Linked DNA regions of Homo sapiens: region 1 is linked to region 2. The links come from fine-mapping of genetic effects on gene expression. Tissue or cell type: whole blood. Region 2 holds a variant in brackets; the other region holds the start of a gene. All regions are shown on one strand. Distances are between the middles of the regions.

What was found.
Region 1: it holds the start of ITPK1, and the variant in region 2 is fine-mapped to the expression of ITPK1 in whole blood (TOPMed, PIP 0.98).

Annotation. Positions count from the first base shown.
Region 1 is chr14:93,111,027-93,119,026 of GRCh38, forward strand. It overlaps ITPK1 (inositol-tetrakisphosphate 1-kinase), which reads right to left and starts at 4,899. Exons shown (of 11, transcript NM_014216.6): 1 at 4,746-4,899; 2 at 4,043-4,279. The coding sequence starts at 4,137.
Region 2 is chr14:93,061,691-93,070,208 of GRCh38, forward strand. All of the region lies in intron 3 of ITPK1 (inositol-tetrakisphosphate 1-kinase), which reads right to left. It overlaps ITPK1-AS1 (ITPK1 antisense RNA 1), which reads left to right and starts at 5,762. Exons shown (of 1, transcript NR_002808.2): 1 at 5,762-8,518. The variant T/C (reference allele first, on the strand shown) is at 3,979.

The DNA.
Region 1 (8,000 bases), 49 kb after region 2:
CATCCCTCATCCCTCCATCCCTCATCCCTCCATCCCTGGGCTGCTGGAAGGATTAAATGAGATGAGGTCCCTGGAAGCACTTCATTAAAAATCAGCAATTATTACAGTAAAGACAGATAAGGTTCACCCAAATTTTATATGGAAAGCTTCACCAAGTCATGTGCCTCTTCCGCCCCCACCTCCTGCAACGTAGGTTCAGCCACAGAAAGAATGGGACAGAGAGGAGGAGAGGAGGAGGCACAGAAAACATGAGCTGAGGAAACTGGGGCCAGCCAGTATTCCCCAGTGAGGCACTGTACAGAACTACAAAATTTAAAATTAAATTAATATCACCCAGTATTTCCAACTAACAGCTTTAATTTCTTCACTCCCCCTCTGAAGCCCCTTCTGAGCATCTAGAAAAAGCCACAAAGGCCAGGAATGCCTGTAATCCCAGCACTCTGGGAGGGCAAGGCAGGCGGATCACCTGAGGTCAGGAGTTCGAGACCAGCCTGGACAACATGGTAAAACTCCATCTCCACTAAAAATACAAAAATTAGCCAGGCGTGGTGGTGCGCACCTGTAATCCCAGCTACTCAGGAGGCTGAGGCAGGAGAATAGCTTGAACCTGGGAGGCGGAGGTTGCAGTGAGCCGAGATTGCGCCACTGCACTCCAGGCTGGGCGACAAAGCGAGACTCCACCTCAAAAAAAAAAAAAAAAAGCCACAAAGAGGGGGTGGTGTGGGAGACCTACAAGGTTGCTCCCAGGCTAGGGAAGGCAGGTGGGAGGGGTACAAGAGAACACAACCAGAGCCGTGTCCCCAGAGAAAGGGGAAGAAACAGGATGGCAACAGGAACAAACAGTACCACTGACAAACAAGTGGATTCAAAGGCCCATCTGCTGGCTAGCAGAGCCCCATCCTATCAGAGTGCACATCTGAAAAGGCTGGCGCCTGTCCCTACCTACGGCAGGTGGGGCACTTCATGGCCCATGAAGTGGCTCTAACCACCCACTGTTGCCATCAACGTGCACTACCCCCCAAACCCTCCCCCCAAGACAAGGATTACACTTGCAGAGGGGCTCAGCTTTGCAAGGAATGTGTCCTGGGGGCTAAATAGCAGCCACCAGACCCCTGGAAAGATAATGAGGGAGACTGCCTTATTGTCGGAGATGCCCAATCAGAAAGGCAATCTCAAGGTAGCCAGGTTGGACCCATTCTAGAAGTTAAAGGAAAAGACCAAGAGTCCGGAACCTGCCCCCTCTCTTGATGGGTTTCCCCATCTGTAAGACAAAGGGGCTAGATGAGATGATGGCCAACATCTCTTCCTGCTCTGAGATCAGATTTTTACAAGGCCGGACATTCAGCTAAACAACCCACCCCGGGCCGGACCATTCGGGTCATTCTTTGCCCAAACATTAAGAGCAGGGCCATTTTTTTTTTTTTTTTTTTTGAGATGGAGTCTCGCTCTGTCACCCAAGCTAGAGTGCAGTGGCACCATCTCGACTTACTGCAACCTCTGCCTCCCGGGTTCAAGTGATTCTCCTGCCTCAGCCTCCTGAGTAGCTGGGACTACAGGCGCCTGCCATCATGCCCGGCTAATTTTTGTATTTTTAGTAGAGATGGGGTTTCACCATGTTAGCCAGGATGGTCTCGATCTCCTGACCTCGTGACCCACCCACCTTGGACTCCCAAAGTGCTGGGATTACAGACAGAAGACACGGCACCCGGCCCAAAGCAGGGCCATTTTCAAATACCTTTAGACTTTTTCATTAGGGAATTCATAGACAATTCATCACCCGTCGTCAGTACAGAAGCCCTGCGCCCCCAGATTCTGAATGTGGAAAACATGATAATGTCCTTTGCACTGTCTCTCAGCCACTAAAGTCTCATTGGCCCTCACACCAAACAAAACAACCTCACGGGGCTCCCTGGTCACTGGCTCAACAGTTGCAGCATTTTGCAGCCAGTATAGAAATGTGGCCACCAGGGGGCACTGCCCTGAAAGTAATAAATAAGAAACGGAAAAACTCTTTGGTGTTTTCTTTTCCTTCTTAGGCTTAAGTGATAAAATATCTAAAGCTTCCCTAGTGAAAACACAAAGTGGGCTTCCTCGGGTTCTAGAATGGCCCTGATGACTTCTGCCTTCTTTGAAGCCAATATTTTGGCCAAAGGAAGGCAACTAGACTTTGAAGACAACAACTCTTTCAGAGAAAGTAATGCTCTACTCCCCAGAACGTTGATAGCATAGCTTGCTCTGAACCTCCCACCCCTTTAAAGGAAGAATGTCTACAAGGTCAAGCCAATCTGCAGGTCCAGCACGAGGACCTAGTTGTGAGTCTCGGCGAAGAATATTTTGCGAGAGCCTCCTAATTACCAAGCAAAACAAGCCAACCCAATGACAAGCCTCAAGCTTGAGTTGCAGACACAAGATGACATAAATACAGACAGCAGTACAAAGGGTGCGAGGTATTCGCTGGGATTTCCCAAGTCTTACATGACTGCAGGGGGAGCTCCGGTGCCTCACATCAGAACTGGACTTCGAGAACATGCCAAAGCAGCTGCTCCAAATTTCTTTAGTGTCTTAGAATGCCCTTCCCACAAGTGAGTGTATCCGCGGTACAACGTTCAAGTACCCTTTTGTAATGTTCCAAGGGTCCTAAGACTCATTTTCAAAGCTCTGGCTTCGAGCTCCTCCTGATTTCTTCATGAATTGCTGGGGCCACTCTGCATGCCCTATTGATCATGAAGAGCCTGTCTTCTAGGGAAACCGGCCTGGGAGAAGGCAGCCAACCCCATCCCCAGACCAAGGGATAAAGAACCAGGCACTATCCTGTACAAGCTGTGCCCCTCTGGCTGCAGGAAGAGCGCCTGCGGGGCTTGCACGGGGCAAAGGAGCAGCAGGCCCTTGGGAAAGGCATGAGGCACACAGAGGTGCTGCCAGGCTCACCTGCGCATGCCAGCTCAGACCAGCCACGGGCCCCCAGGAGCACCAGGGGTTACGGAAACCCAACTGTTCAATTCTCCAAGATGTGTGGGGCCCCCACAGGGACAAAAATGCAAGTAGAGCCCATTTTCAAAAATCAGTCTAACAAGCTGCATCACAAAAGGTTTCCACCTGGAGTTTGCAAAAGGCTTTCAGAGCTAGATTCTCTTAGGCTTGCATTGAGAAAAGGGCTTAACTGCTTCTCAGAGGCAAAGCTACAGTTGTGGAGCAAGGGAAGGCCTACCTGACCCAAGACTCAGTAGTTCTGTAATTTATTAAGAACGTGATCTGTTAAACACCGGAGACTCCGCCAAGGAGCACCAGCATGGTGGGAGCAGGGGCACACAGCCCAGATGGCAGAAGGCCACTCCACACCACGGGCATTTACCCAGCACTTTCTACGCACCAGCCACTCCCTAGCTGCGGGACCCCAAGCTAGGTACCCCGCTCCTCTGCCGATCGGTCCCCGTTCTCAGACAGGTGGCCCAGAATCACCACCCTGGCCAATTTGCAGGGCTGCTGCGAGGCTCTAATGAGACAGCAAATCACCACATACATGCCAAGAATTGCTACTCGCTTCAACTGGGCTTAACCTCATGATATGCAATGACAGCCTCAAGAGCCGAGCACACGCGGGGCACATAGTAGGTGGTCCACAAACGTGGGTGCCCTTTCTTCATGAAAGGGAAGGGGACGAAGGAAGAAAAACACTCCGGTCCAAAAGTACCCTCAAGCCCTTACCCCACAGCGTGGATGCCCCGATTTCCCAGGTCCCTCCGCAACCCTCAGTAGAACTCCCACCGCGCCCTGGGCTGCTGGGGGCCTCCCCAGCCGGGTCACAGTGCACCTGAACGCCCCGGTCCGTGCCACCTCGCCCGCACCGGCCACCGCTTCCCTGGAACGCGGCCGGCGGCCGCCACCGCCACCTGGCTGCTCGGACTCAGTCTCCCCGCGCGCCGCTTCTTCCCGTTTGGCTCCGATCTCCCAAAACAACTAATGAGGCTGCACCGGGCTCGGGCCGGGGGTCACCGGGCTCGGGCCGGGGGTCCCCGGGCGCCGGCGCCGCGTCCCTCCTTACCTGCACAGCTCGGCGAAGGCCTGGAAATTCAGCTTCTTGATTTTCTTCTCGCTCAGCCAGTAGCCAACTCTCTTCCCTTTCAGAAAGGTCTGCATCTTCCTCCTCGGGCGGGGAGCCTGGGTCCGGAGGAAATCGCCCACAGGCCGAGTCTGGCGGCCGGCGCGCGCCGCGAGCGAGTGGGCACCTCCTCCCGGCGGCGGGGACGCGGAACGGGGATCGGAGCTGGGGCGCGCAGTCCTGCCGCGCGGAGCGGAGCGGGGCGGGGCGCGGCGGGCGGCCGGGAGGAGGGAGCGGCGCTCAGCGCGGAAGGCCACTGGCTGGGCCAAGCTGCCACCGCCCACGCCCCCGCCGCCTGCGGGCTCGCCCGCCCGCCCACCGGCTCGCGAGCGCCGCGCCGCCCGGCCTGCCGGCTGAGGCTGGGGCACGGCTGAGCCTGAGTCTGAGTCGGAGCTGGGGCCAGGGCCCGCAGGAGGGGAAGCCGGGCCTCCGCAGACACCGCCCCCGCCCTGCCCGCCCTCCCGCCGCGCGGGCCCGAGCCACACGCCCTCAGGCGGCGGCAGAAGCGCGGCCTCCGAGCCCTTCCTCCCTCCTCCTCCCGCCCGGGTCCTCGCCCTCTGATGTTCCCAGCCGGGCCGTAACCCCTGGGCGCGCTTGGACCCCGGCGGGGCGCACGCGGCCACTCGGCCCGGCCAGAGATCCTCACCCGCCGCCGCCGCCGCCACTTCCTCCTCGGCCTGGTCCTCGCGCGCTGCCCGCCGAGAAGGGCGGCGGCGAGCGCCCGCGCACTCGCCGCCCCTGCCCGCCGCCGCCCCGCGCTGGCCCGGCCGCCCCGCTTGAGCCCGCGGCGGCGAGGAAGCGGCGGGGCGGCCGCCAGGGGGCAGCGCCGCCCGCCGCCTCTTAAAGGCGCCGCGCCGGCCCTCGCGGCTACCCGGCGCCTGTTTGTGTCCCCGGGTGTGGGGTGCGGGGCGCGGGGCTTCCTGGGGGCGGCCGTGGCCCGGCGGTCTTACTTCGGGAAGGGAGCCGCGGTGTGGGCGTGTGTTCCGCCTGGCCTTTGGGGGCGACCGAGCCGCTGAGTTTCGGAAACGTCTCTGTACCCCCAGCAGGGTTCAGCACCCCCAAGGCAATCCATTGCAACTGCGCCCGGAAGGAGACCTTCCAGGAATTCGCCCCTTCCCTCGAGGAAGCGGACCCTGGCCCAGGATGGGGCCCCCCGGGGGGGTGGGTGAACACCCAGGGGCCCTCCTAGGCGTAGGACGTGACCACCAGTTCTCACTCTAGGTCCCCTTCACTGAGGGGGGAAGGGGCGGGGACTGGAGGCGACAGCGACAACAGCGGCCGTCCCCGGAGACCCCTTCCTCAGGGGTGCGGGTCAGCGTCGGCGCCGGGGAGTCACTAAACCCCGCCTACCCTGCCCTGCCCTATGGGGCAGCCAGGGAGCTTTCCTGCCTCAATGGTCTCTGGGTTTGGGAAGGAGAAATGGACTTCTCTCCCCAGGCCCAGGCAGGAAAAATGGATTCCCGTGGAGGGAAGGCTCAGAAAAGTTTGAGAGGAGACACTGAAGCTGGCCTTGGAAATCAAGGAGATTTTGATGGAGCAGGGAAGGGGGATGAGCTTGAATTGAGGCTGGGAGACAAGAAAAAGCCAAGTTGCCAGCGGGTGACCAAGACTTCCCTTGATCACACTTGAGTCAGGCTCCTCCGAGACCTCTTTCTGACCAGGCCCCGACCTTGGGCTCTGTCCTTGGCCTTCTTAGTCCAGTTTTAGCCAGAATCCTGCTGTCAAGAATATCTCCACGCTTGGTATGTGATCACCCTGGCCGGCCTACATTAAGAAACTCCGTCTCAAAAAAAAAAGAAAGACAAGGATCTCTCTATGCTGCCCAGGCTGGAGTGCAATGGTGCAGTCATAGCTCACTGCAGCCTCGAACACCCCTGCTAAACTGATCCTCCCACCTCAGCCTCCCGAGCAGCTGGGACTACACTGTGTTGCCCAGGCAGGTCTCGAACTCCTGGCCTCAAGCTGTCCTCCCACCTGGGCCTCCCAAAGTGCTGGGATTGTAGACCTGAGCCACCCCGCCTGGCTTCCCTGCCATCTTTAACGAGAATCTGATTAGTTTTTTTCTTTAACAAGGTAGAGAAAACGGATGGATGGAGAGTGGAAAAGACGATGGGTGGGAAACAGGACTCCTCCAGGGGGCCAGCTAGGGACGGGCACTGCATGCCTTAGGCAAGGGTACTGCGAGTTTCATAGGCCATGGGAGCCTAGAAGGTAAGTGGTGACAGGTTCCAGGGTCAGCTCTGTGGCTTAGAATGCCTGGCTCCTGGGGGGGACATGGAAAGCTGGATAAAGGGAAGATCATAGCAAGGACCCCTAGGGCCGAGGCACAAGATGGATAAAAGAAGGCTAAGGGAGGCTGCGCATGGTGGCTCATGCCTGTAATCCCAGCACTTTGGGAGGCCGAGGTGGGCACATCATGAGGTCAGGAGATTGAGATCATCCTGGCTAACACGGTGAAACCCTGTCTCTACTAAAAATACAAAAAATTAGCCGGGCGTGGTGGCGGGCGCCTGTAGTCCCAGCTACTTGGGAGGCTAAGGCAGGAGAATGGCGTGAACCTGGGAGGCAGAGCTGGCAGTGAGCTGAGATCGTGCCACTGCACTCTAGCCTGGGCAACAGAGTGAGACTCCGTCTCAAAAAAAAAAAAAAAAAAAGAAGGCGGCTAAGGGAGTAAAAACGAAGGGGATGGGGGCAGCAACTATAAACTTGATACTTGAAGTCAGCAGTAGGGATTACAGGCATCGACTTTAAATGTCCTGCTGTTCTTAGGAACTGAAAGACCAGTTGAGGCTGGGTGGTTCAGGAGGGTTCCTGGAATTCCCTCACTCCTTTGGCAAACACACGAGAGCCCAGTGTGTGGCAGAGGAAAATGGACACAAGCCATTGATTAGAAACACGGGATGAGGCTGGGCGCTGGGAGGCCGAAGCAGGCGGATCACCTGAGATCAGGAGTTCGAGGCCAGCCTGACCAACATGGAGAAACCCCATCTCTACTAAAAATACAAAATTAGGTGGGCATGGTGGCGCATGCCTGTAATCCCAGCTACTTGGGAGGCTGAGGCAGGAGAATCGCTTGAACCAGAGAGGCGGAGGTTGCGGTCAGCCGAGGTCGCGCCATTGCACTCCAGCCTGGGCGGCAAGGGCAAAACTCCATCTCAAAAACAAAAAAAAGAAAGAAAAAAGGAAACGTGGGGTGAGAGCTGAGAGGGAAATGGGAAGGAAGATGGCAATCTGTCCCATTTTGCTGCATGACTGGGGAGACTGTGGCATAGGATCTTGAAGGATGAGTAGGAAGGAGTTCAGTGGGGGAAGGAGGCAACATTCCAGGCAAAGGCGAAAACAGGTGCGAAGTTTCAGAGGGTGAAAAGGGAAGAACACCGTAAATAAGGGCACGGTAAGATGGAGATGGGCAGGAAGATGAGGCCTGAGAAATGGACCAGGGGAACTTGGGAGGGATGCTGAAGACAGTGTGTGTGTGGTCACTTCTGAACAGGAGCTGGATGAAGTTCTTTTTTTTTCTTAATATTATTTTATTTTATCTTATTTTATTATTTTATTTTATTTTATTTTTTGAAATGGAGTCTTGTTGTGTCATCCAGGCTGGAGTCCAGTGCACCTCCCGGGTTCAAGCGATTCTCCTGCCTTGACCTCCCGGTAGCTGGGACTATTGGCACGTGTCACCACGCCCAGCTAATTTTTGTATTTTTTTTTTTTTTTGAGACGGAGTCTTGCTTTGTTGCCCAGACTGGAGTGCAGTGGCGCAATCTCGGCTCACTGCAAGCTCCACCTCCCGGGTTCATGCCATTCTCCTGCCTCAGCCTCCTGAGTAGCTGGGACTACAGGCGCCCGCCACCACGCCCGGCTAATTTTTTGTATTTTTAGTAGAGATGGGGTTTCACCG
Region 2 (8,518 bases):
TACAAAAACAATATATACAACTTACTTATGTAACCCAAAGAAATAATCATCACAGGCTTGCCCAAACAGTATCAAAAGTGGATGTTTATCACAATACTATTTATAAAGGTGACAGACCAGAACCATGGTCAGCATCAACCAAGGGAATCAAAGAACTTCAGTTACAATCAGATAATATTATGCAGTCATTTAAAAAGCAAGCCTAAGTAGACATTTAACAAAGGGGGAAGCTCTAAGAGAATGCTAAGTGTGTTTGTGGGAACAGATTACAACAGAACCACAACTTTGTTTACAACTATGTCAAGGCTGGTGGCTCGCGCCTGTAATCCCAACACTTTTAGAAGCCGAGGCGGGCAGATCACTTGAGGTCAGGAGTTCAAGACCACCCTGGCCAACACGGTGAAACCCCATCACTACTAAAAATACAAAAATTAGCCAGGCATGGTGGCGCGTGCCTGTAATCTCAGTTACTCTGGGGTCTGAGACAGGAAAATCGCTTGAACCTGGGAGGCGGAGGTTGCAGCGAGCCAAGATCGAGCCATTGCACTCCAGCCTGGGCGACAGAGCGAGATTCCATCTCAAAAAAAAAACTGCATCAAAGATGTTGGTGCACACCATGGTCCCAGCTACTAAGAAGGCTGAGGTGGGAGGATTGCTTGAGCCCAGGAGTTCAAAGCTGCAGCAAGCTATGATCGCACCACTACACTCCAGCCTGAGTGACAGAGCAAAACCCCATCTCTAAAAAAAGTTTAATTAAAAAAAAAAGTTTTTTTAATGCATCAGTGTGTGTGCCATTTTTATGCTCAAAGGACATGAATAAAGTCACACTTTATTCACATTTTAGTGTGCTGGTTATCCTTCGGCTAGGGAGTAACACATTTTGTTCCCACAAGCTACACAGGAGGCTCTCCAGACCTTCCTGAAAGGCACTTTCAAACCTGCTTCTGGAGGGTCAGAACATCATGCAGGACAGAGGTCAGGCACTAGCAGGAGGCCCTGGTCCCACGGCAGGTCTGTGCTATTTGAAGTCGTAAAGCAGGTCAATGGTGGCCCAGTGTGAGGGGCTGCAGGGGCTGCCAGGCTCACAGTCAAGGCCAGGGCCTGGCCTACCATACACCAAGGCGTTTCATCTTCTCCCCAAGAAGATATACTGGGTGGGCAGGGGTCCTTGTCCCTGATGGACAAAGGAAGGCACTGAGGGCTCAGACAGCAAAAATAACCGAGGGTCCTGAGCGATCCGGCGGAATATTTGGTCGACAGGAAAACTCATCAAGTCCTGCCCTCACCAGGCCCCAAAGCCCTGGCTTAAGGGAGGGCCAGGCCTGGCATTTGTCAAGATTTAACAAGTTCAGTAAATGTGCGCCCCCACCCCACCCCCATCTCCCATCTCTCTCCCACGCCAGACCCTTCTCCAAGCCCCACTCCTTGGCCATTAGCTCAGTCCCAAAGGCATCCTTGCCCATCCCGGCTGCCGATGATCCTGTCAAAACACTGTAAATAACTTATTTCTACTTGGCAGGGCCTGCGGCAAAAATACTGCCTGGGCAAGGAAGGGAGTGAGCCAAGGTCTGCCTCCAAGCCAGGACCCACACCCTCCTGCCCAGGGACCCCTGGTCCCCCACCCACCTGAGATGGCAGAGACCCACAGTGGAGGCCAAACTCCTGCCCAGTGAGACAGGGGTGTGAGCTTCACAAGACCCCTCGAGTCATCTCAGGAGCCAGAAAACCAGTGAGCTTCCCACTCCCCACAGCCCCACACAGCACACTAAGCCCTGTCCCTGACCTCAGGCTACCCACGCTTCTCCTACGAGGGCCTGAGTTTTAGAAGGCCTTCTCACTTGCCCTCCCCTCGTCTCAATCATCCATCTCATCACCATCTGGTAGATGGGCCTCAGAGAGGTTGTGCCACTACCCAGGACTGCACAGCCTTGGAGGGATGGAGCTGGAACTAGGGAGGAGTCACTGGACTCTCACCAGGCAGGCAGTCTTCGGAGCAGAAGAGGCACTGGCTATGCCATCACACCTCTAGAATCCAATCCCAGCTCCACAGCTCACATGCTAGGCTGTGACAAGCCCACCTGTGTGAGCCTCAGTCCTCTCACCTGGCAAGTGGGGCACTAACCCTGGCACTCAGTAGACGAGGCACACACAGGAGTTCTCACTGCTGCTGCCTGGGCTGCTCATAGAAGCCCAGCCCAGACGCCAAACGCACTTTGGAATTTTTACATGCGCATTCTAGAACTCTGAAGCAATCCTACTAGGTGCTTACTGCCCAGACAACAGGGCTGGTGACCTTTAAAAAAAAAAAATTGGCCGGGCATGGTGGCTCACACCTGTAATCCCAGCACTTTGGGAGGCCAAGGTGGGTGGATCACGAGGTCAGGAGATTGAGACCATCCTGGCTAACATGGTGAAACCCTGTCTCTACCAAAAATACAAAAAATTAGCCGGGCGTGGTGGCGGGCACCTGTAGTCCCAGCTACTTGGGAGGCTGAGGCAGAAGAATGGCGTGAACGTGGGAGGCAGAGCTTGCAGTGAGCCGAGGTCGCGCCACTGCACTCCAGCCTGGGCGACAGAGCGAGACTCCATCTCAAAAAATAAAAATTAAAATTTTCGTAGAGATGGGGTCTCACTATGTCGCCCAGGCTGGTCTTGAACTCCAGGCTTCAAGCAATTCTCCTGCCTTGGCCTCTCAAAGTGTTGGGATTACAGACACAGGCCATCATGCCTGGCTGCTGGTGGCCTTCCTGCAGAGAATCCAGGAGCTCTAAATGTTCCCCCAGGACACCTGATCAAAGCCCCCTCTCAGGCCTCTGTACCCCATTCCCACCGGAACCCTGGGAGCCACCCCAGGCGGCTTCTGTAGAAGTGCTGAGTGAGCCCCATGCACCACCGCCAAGTTTCTGGGACACAGCTGCAGGGCCGGGCACCAGCAAGCCGGGATCTCCTTATAGGGTATACTCTAAGGCCATTGCATAAAGCTCAAAAAGAGAAAGACTCAGATTGACAGTCGAGCTGGAAAACAGGCCTGTGAAAGGAGAACTAGACACCAGGGCAATCAGGTCCCTGAAAGGGCTGTCTCTGCCTACCATTTGTGCAGAACATCAGAGAACTTGAGGCAAAGACGGGAGCCACTGTGCTTCCCAGGGGAGTTCTTGAGCTGAGGGTGGATCAAGGGGAAGGAGAAAGACAGAGCCAAGTTACAACTCTGGATTTACACAGCTTTTGGAAAAGTCACGATGAGTGTGCGGGGAATCCCTGGGACCTCCCCTGCCCATAATGAACTAGCACGGGAGGGGGTCATGGGGCTAGGGTCAGGGGTCAGCACTCCCTGGGGGTGATGCCTTCACCCCATCATGGCTAGACCTGGGGAGATCCAGAAAGAAGGAAAACATAAATCAGCCCATGCCCCCAAATGCACCCCAGCCAGAGCAAAATCTGCTCTAACCCCAGAGGACAAGCTGGGACCTCACTCACTCACAGCAGGAGACTCATCCCTGGTCAGCCCTGCTTTAGCCAAACCAAACAGACATAACTTATGCTACAGACATTTCTGGCTTTTTTACTCATGAAAATAAATCAAACAGAAGAGATCCTTTCATTTTGGCTCATCTACCCATCGCATCATTTAACTACACAACACACCTCATTCAGACTCACGCTTCCCTGGGCCACTGAGGATGACAATGATGGTGGTGGAGGTGGCACCAGTAAATAATCACAAACAGCTCCTTCTGAGGACAAACTAGGTAAACAGGTTCTGTGCTGTTCCTTATCTGCATGACCTCACTCCTGGAACTCTATGAGACTGGGTCCATTATTATTTCCATTTTACAGAAGAATAAACTGAGGCTTAGAGGGGGCAAGTAACCTGTCCAGTTCTAAGTCCAGGGCCCAAGTGTGCTGGACACAGCTGACTAGCTGCAGCCCAACCTGTCCCCCATTCTCCCCTTCTTCTTTAGCAACAAAATCCTGAAG[T/C]CACTTCTAGACCATAACCCAATGAAACAGCCTGAGATGTGACTTAGGTCCCCAAAGATTTAGGTCCAGAGACACCCAGGGCAGGACTGTTAGTAACAGCAAACCAGAAATAACCTAGAACTTGAGACTCTGGAGCAGAGAAATGGTTCTAGATGCTGGGACATAGGGATGGTGGGAAGCTGGTGCAGCCACTCTAACAGCAATTTCCAAGGTGTTTAAATGGCACAGGCAAATGCTCAACTGTTCCCCCAAATGCAAGTGGCAAAACTAGGGACACAGAAAAGCCTAACCTGAATGCACATCATATAGAAAAAGGAGCATATTTTATGTAAAAATTGCTTCAATAATTATCTCTGGGTTTTCATTTGTGAGCCTATCTTGACTTCCCAAGATTTCCACAAGTACATATTACTTAATGAGCAAAAGAATAATCTAGAGTTATTTTTAGCAAGCACAGACCCTCGAGGCCTGGCCACATCCTGTGTAGCACAATACCTCAGTCCTTAATTCACTCACCCAGTAGACACAGCGCACATCAGGGCCAGACCACGTGCTCCTCAGAGACCAGCAAGTCCCAGCCTCAGGAGGACACACCAACAGGCAGCTCAGCTTGGTGTGCGTGCGTGTGTGCGCGTGCATGTGTGTGTGTGTATGTGTGTGTGTGTGTGTGTGTAGGGGGCAGAGGCGTCTGCTGGGAAAGCAGGGTAGGTGTCACTGCCAAGGTGACATTTAGCAATTCTTTTTTTTTTTTTTTTTGAGACGGAGTCTTGCTCTGTCACAGGCTAGAGTTCAGTGGCGCGATCTCGGCTCACTGCAAGCTCCGCCTCCCGCGTTCGCGCCATTCTCCTGCCTCAGCCTCCTGAGTAGCTGGGACTACAGGCACCTGCCACCACGCCCAGCTAATTTTTTGTATTTTTAGTAGAGACAGGGTTTCACCGTGTTAGCCAGGATGGTCTCGATCTCCTGACCTCATGATCCACCCGCCTCGGCCTCCCAAAGTGCTGGGATTACAGGTGTGAGCCACTGCACCCACCTGACATTTAGCAGTTCTAAAAGCATGAATAAAAATATGAGAGCAGGGAAGGGGCTGAAGAGGGAGATGCCAGGTCCTTACTCAACTGAAATACTCAGGGACGCTTCCTGGTCTTTGGAACTGACCTGAGGCAATGCATCTCCATTCCTGGCTTTGACTACGATGGTTCTGCGCCCAGCTGGACAAGGAGCACAGTCCAGGGCCCTCAGGTCAAGATGCCTCCTCCTCAGAGTCTCAGCCCTGCACCAGGCCAAACGGGAACCGACTGCTGAGGAATCCAGTGTTTGCATCCGAGTTTCTCCATCTGCACCCAGATTCCCTAGGATCACACTCTGAGTAGCAATGCTATGGATACCTTCACCCCAGAATGCCAGGACAGTCAGCTACTTTAAGAGCAGAATCTTGCTTCTGGCCCTTTCTAAAACCCCCGTTCCATCCCTTCCTATTTCCCCTGTGTACTTCATTCCATCTCTTTTCTTTGCTTTTACGTAAAATGCTTACCTGGCACGCTCCACTGAGGCCACGGAATTCTTGACATTTGACAGCCAAGCAAGGGTGGCAGGTACCAGGGAGATCCAGTCCCAACCCTGCGTGGTGTGGTGAGGAGGGCCTGGGGTTCTGGAAGCCTGCCTGCAAGAAGGCACCCAGGCACCCTGGAGCACAGGGAGCCCCACCTGCCCTGGCAGAGCTCTGTTGTCTTGACATGGGATGTGGGAACTTTTTTTTTTTTTTAAAGGATTTGCTCAAATTGACTCAGTGCATCAAAGGCTGGAGAAAGAATCACCCTAGAACTGAGTGCCACAGGCTTCGGAAGCTGCACAAGACTGCAACACGGTGACAGCTTCTATTTCTAACAGCAAACCTAAAAAGCTCAGGAACCAAAATAAAACGGATAGAAATGAAACCACTCAGAGTATGACGACAGTACTCAAAGCAACTCACGAGCATTTCCCCACGCTGTCTTCCAAAATGTGAAAAATGTGATTTTTTTTTAATGGCCACATTGGAGAACTGCTATGAGCAGACCTCATTTATATAACCCTTCCCAGCACCTCATGTATCATCATTATTAAAAAACACTATGGGGATCATGCTTTCACATAACTTTGTCTTATTTGTTATCTACATAGCCTAAGCAAATAGTAAATGATGGAGAATGAAAATAATTGTCAATGTTTAGGGGGAAAAAAATACCTGCATTTCAAATTTTTTAAAAAAACCATAAAATCTATCTTTTAAAAAAGGAAGGAGTAAGCTGGAATCCACAATTGTTAGAAACCCAAAAGTGATACAGAGGGGAGGCAAAAAAAAAAAAAAAATACTATATTCTCCACACTGAAACAATGTATCTTTCTCAACAGCCCAGTTTCATCTGTAGCTGTATTTTCCCCACTGAAATGCCACCATTAATCATAACAACAGATGAGTAAAAATCAATTAATATTCCTTCAGCATCTCTTAGGTGTCTTCAATCCTGTGCGCTGTCATCCCTTTAAAGAGGAAGGAAAAGATCCACAGCCAGGAAACAGACTCAGAAACTCAAACCCAGGTCTCTGGACCCCACAGGGAAGTGAGGCACAGCCAAGAGCAATCTGTGTCCATTACTGGCCTCAAATGACCACATGGAAACACTGTGTGCAGAGCCAGCCCCCCAAGCCCGTGGCGGTCCTCCTTGGAGATGATGGGGTCTGGGGAGAGGTCAGAGTCAGGCTCACGTGAACTTCAGAAAGCCACTGCCCAGGATATGGGTGGACCGCAAGTCTACCATGGGCTGTCCCAGCTCCAAAGACGTCAGAACCCCACAGCGATTGTTATTCCCAAAGCCCTTTACGCTTGGCTCCACAGCACACGGCAGAGAAAATCGACAGAAGGAAGGATGTTCACAGGTGTCCACCCCTACCTATGCCCCAGTGACCTGGAAATAAAATCCATCAAGAGCACCGGGGTCAGCCAGCTGGGGTACGCTGGAGAGTATGGGTGGCAGAGGGAACCCCGCTGTGGATTGATCATTTGACACTGTGTTCAGCATACCTTTTAAAAAAATGTTGGTACCATGTAAAAATATAACCTAAATAACAAGTACATTTTTAATGCTGAGATGGAGAATTTAGCACCTATAATCCTTCCAGAGATGCACACCACGCAACCACGTGAGTCCCCTCTGGCTCTGAATTCCGAGAGCAGCTACCAACACAGGCCTCCGCTGCCTGCACTCAGCACACCTATCGGAAAGCGCCAGTGCTGGCATGGGCTTTCCCTCCCTGGCGGCTGCTCCTCCTGCACCCCCATGCCCAGGCACTCCGGCCAGAAACAAGGGAGGAGTCTGGGGACTGATCCTCCCCCTCTCACCTCCCACATCTACCCAGGTACCACACCCTGCCATCTGTCTCCTGCTGCCCTCTGTCACTGCAGGAGCCCCTGGAGAGCACATCACCCCTCACTAGGCTGCAGCCACAGCCCCTCTCAGAAAACCCTGCTGTCTGCTTTCCAGTGCAGCCCTGTCTAATCACCCTCCATGTATCCTCCCCATGGCTCTTCCCCCATAGCCTCAGGTTGGAGCACCCAGCTTTCGCCTGCAGAAGCCCCTCCATGCCCCCGACACAGCACCCCATGAACAACTCACCTGGCACCGCTACTCTCTCCAGCCTGGTCTCTCACTAGCCCCCTCAAGCCTGGGGCTGTAGCCTTTCCAAGCCATTGGCAGCCAAAGGACCCCCTTCCCCAGCTGCTGTGTGTGGCCCTGGCCATGCTCCTTGTCTGTAAGGCCATTCTAACACCTCGCCTCCTGCCAGCCCCTACGCCCAGTTTATTCCATGTCAGGAGGTATGGCCTCCATCCCCTGATGGCCCACTCCTCCTTACATGCCCAGCCTTGCGTCCTCACCACTCCCCCACAGCTCAGACAGGCCTGCCCTGCCCCTGGGCTTGGGCATCCCCACGGTTTCCCTGCCAGTGGGCATCCCCACAGTTCCTTCGCCTCCAGAGGCCCAGCACCCAGTTCTGCCTCGGCCCCAGGCACATGGACCTTCCCTTGGGTCTTAGTGTCTCTTTCTCAGACTTGCCTTTTCTTGGTGGTTTGATGGTCACCCACCCAACCTCCTTCCCTGAAAGTCTGGTGCAGGAAGGGGTAAAAACACATATACAAAGGTCACCAGCAAGCCAGCCAGCACCAGCTCTGGAGAAAACACGGACAGAAAGACGTATGCCCACCATTCACTCATTCGCAAGCCGGGAGAACTTACTTACTTCCTTGCCTGCTTGAGAAACAGCCGCCGCACCAGAGACTGGGTTTCATAGTGTCTGAATTCTCAAGGAATGTGGATGGAGGACAGTGAATCTCTAACTGGCTGCTGCACTTCTCACACTTACAGCTTGCTCATTCGCACTTTAAAGTCAAACCTCGAGTCCCCTCATGCCAGCAGTCACCTTCTCCCCGATCTTTTACAGTAACTGGGGAAAGGCAGCCCAGAGAACAGGCCAGGGCAGAGGTCAGGCTGCAAAACATGCT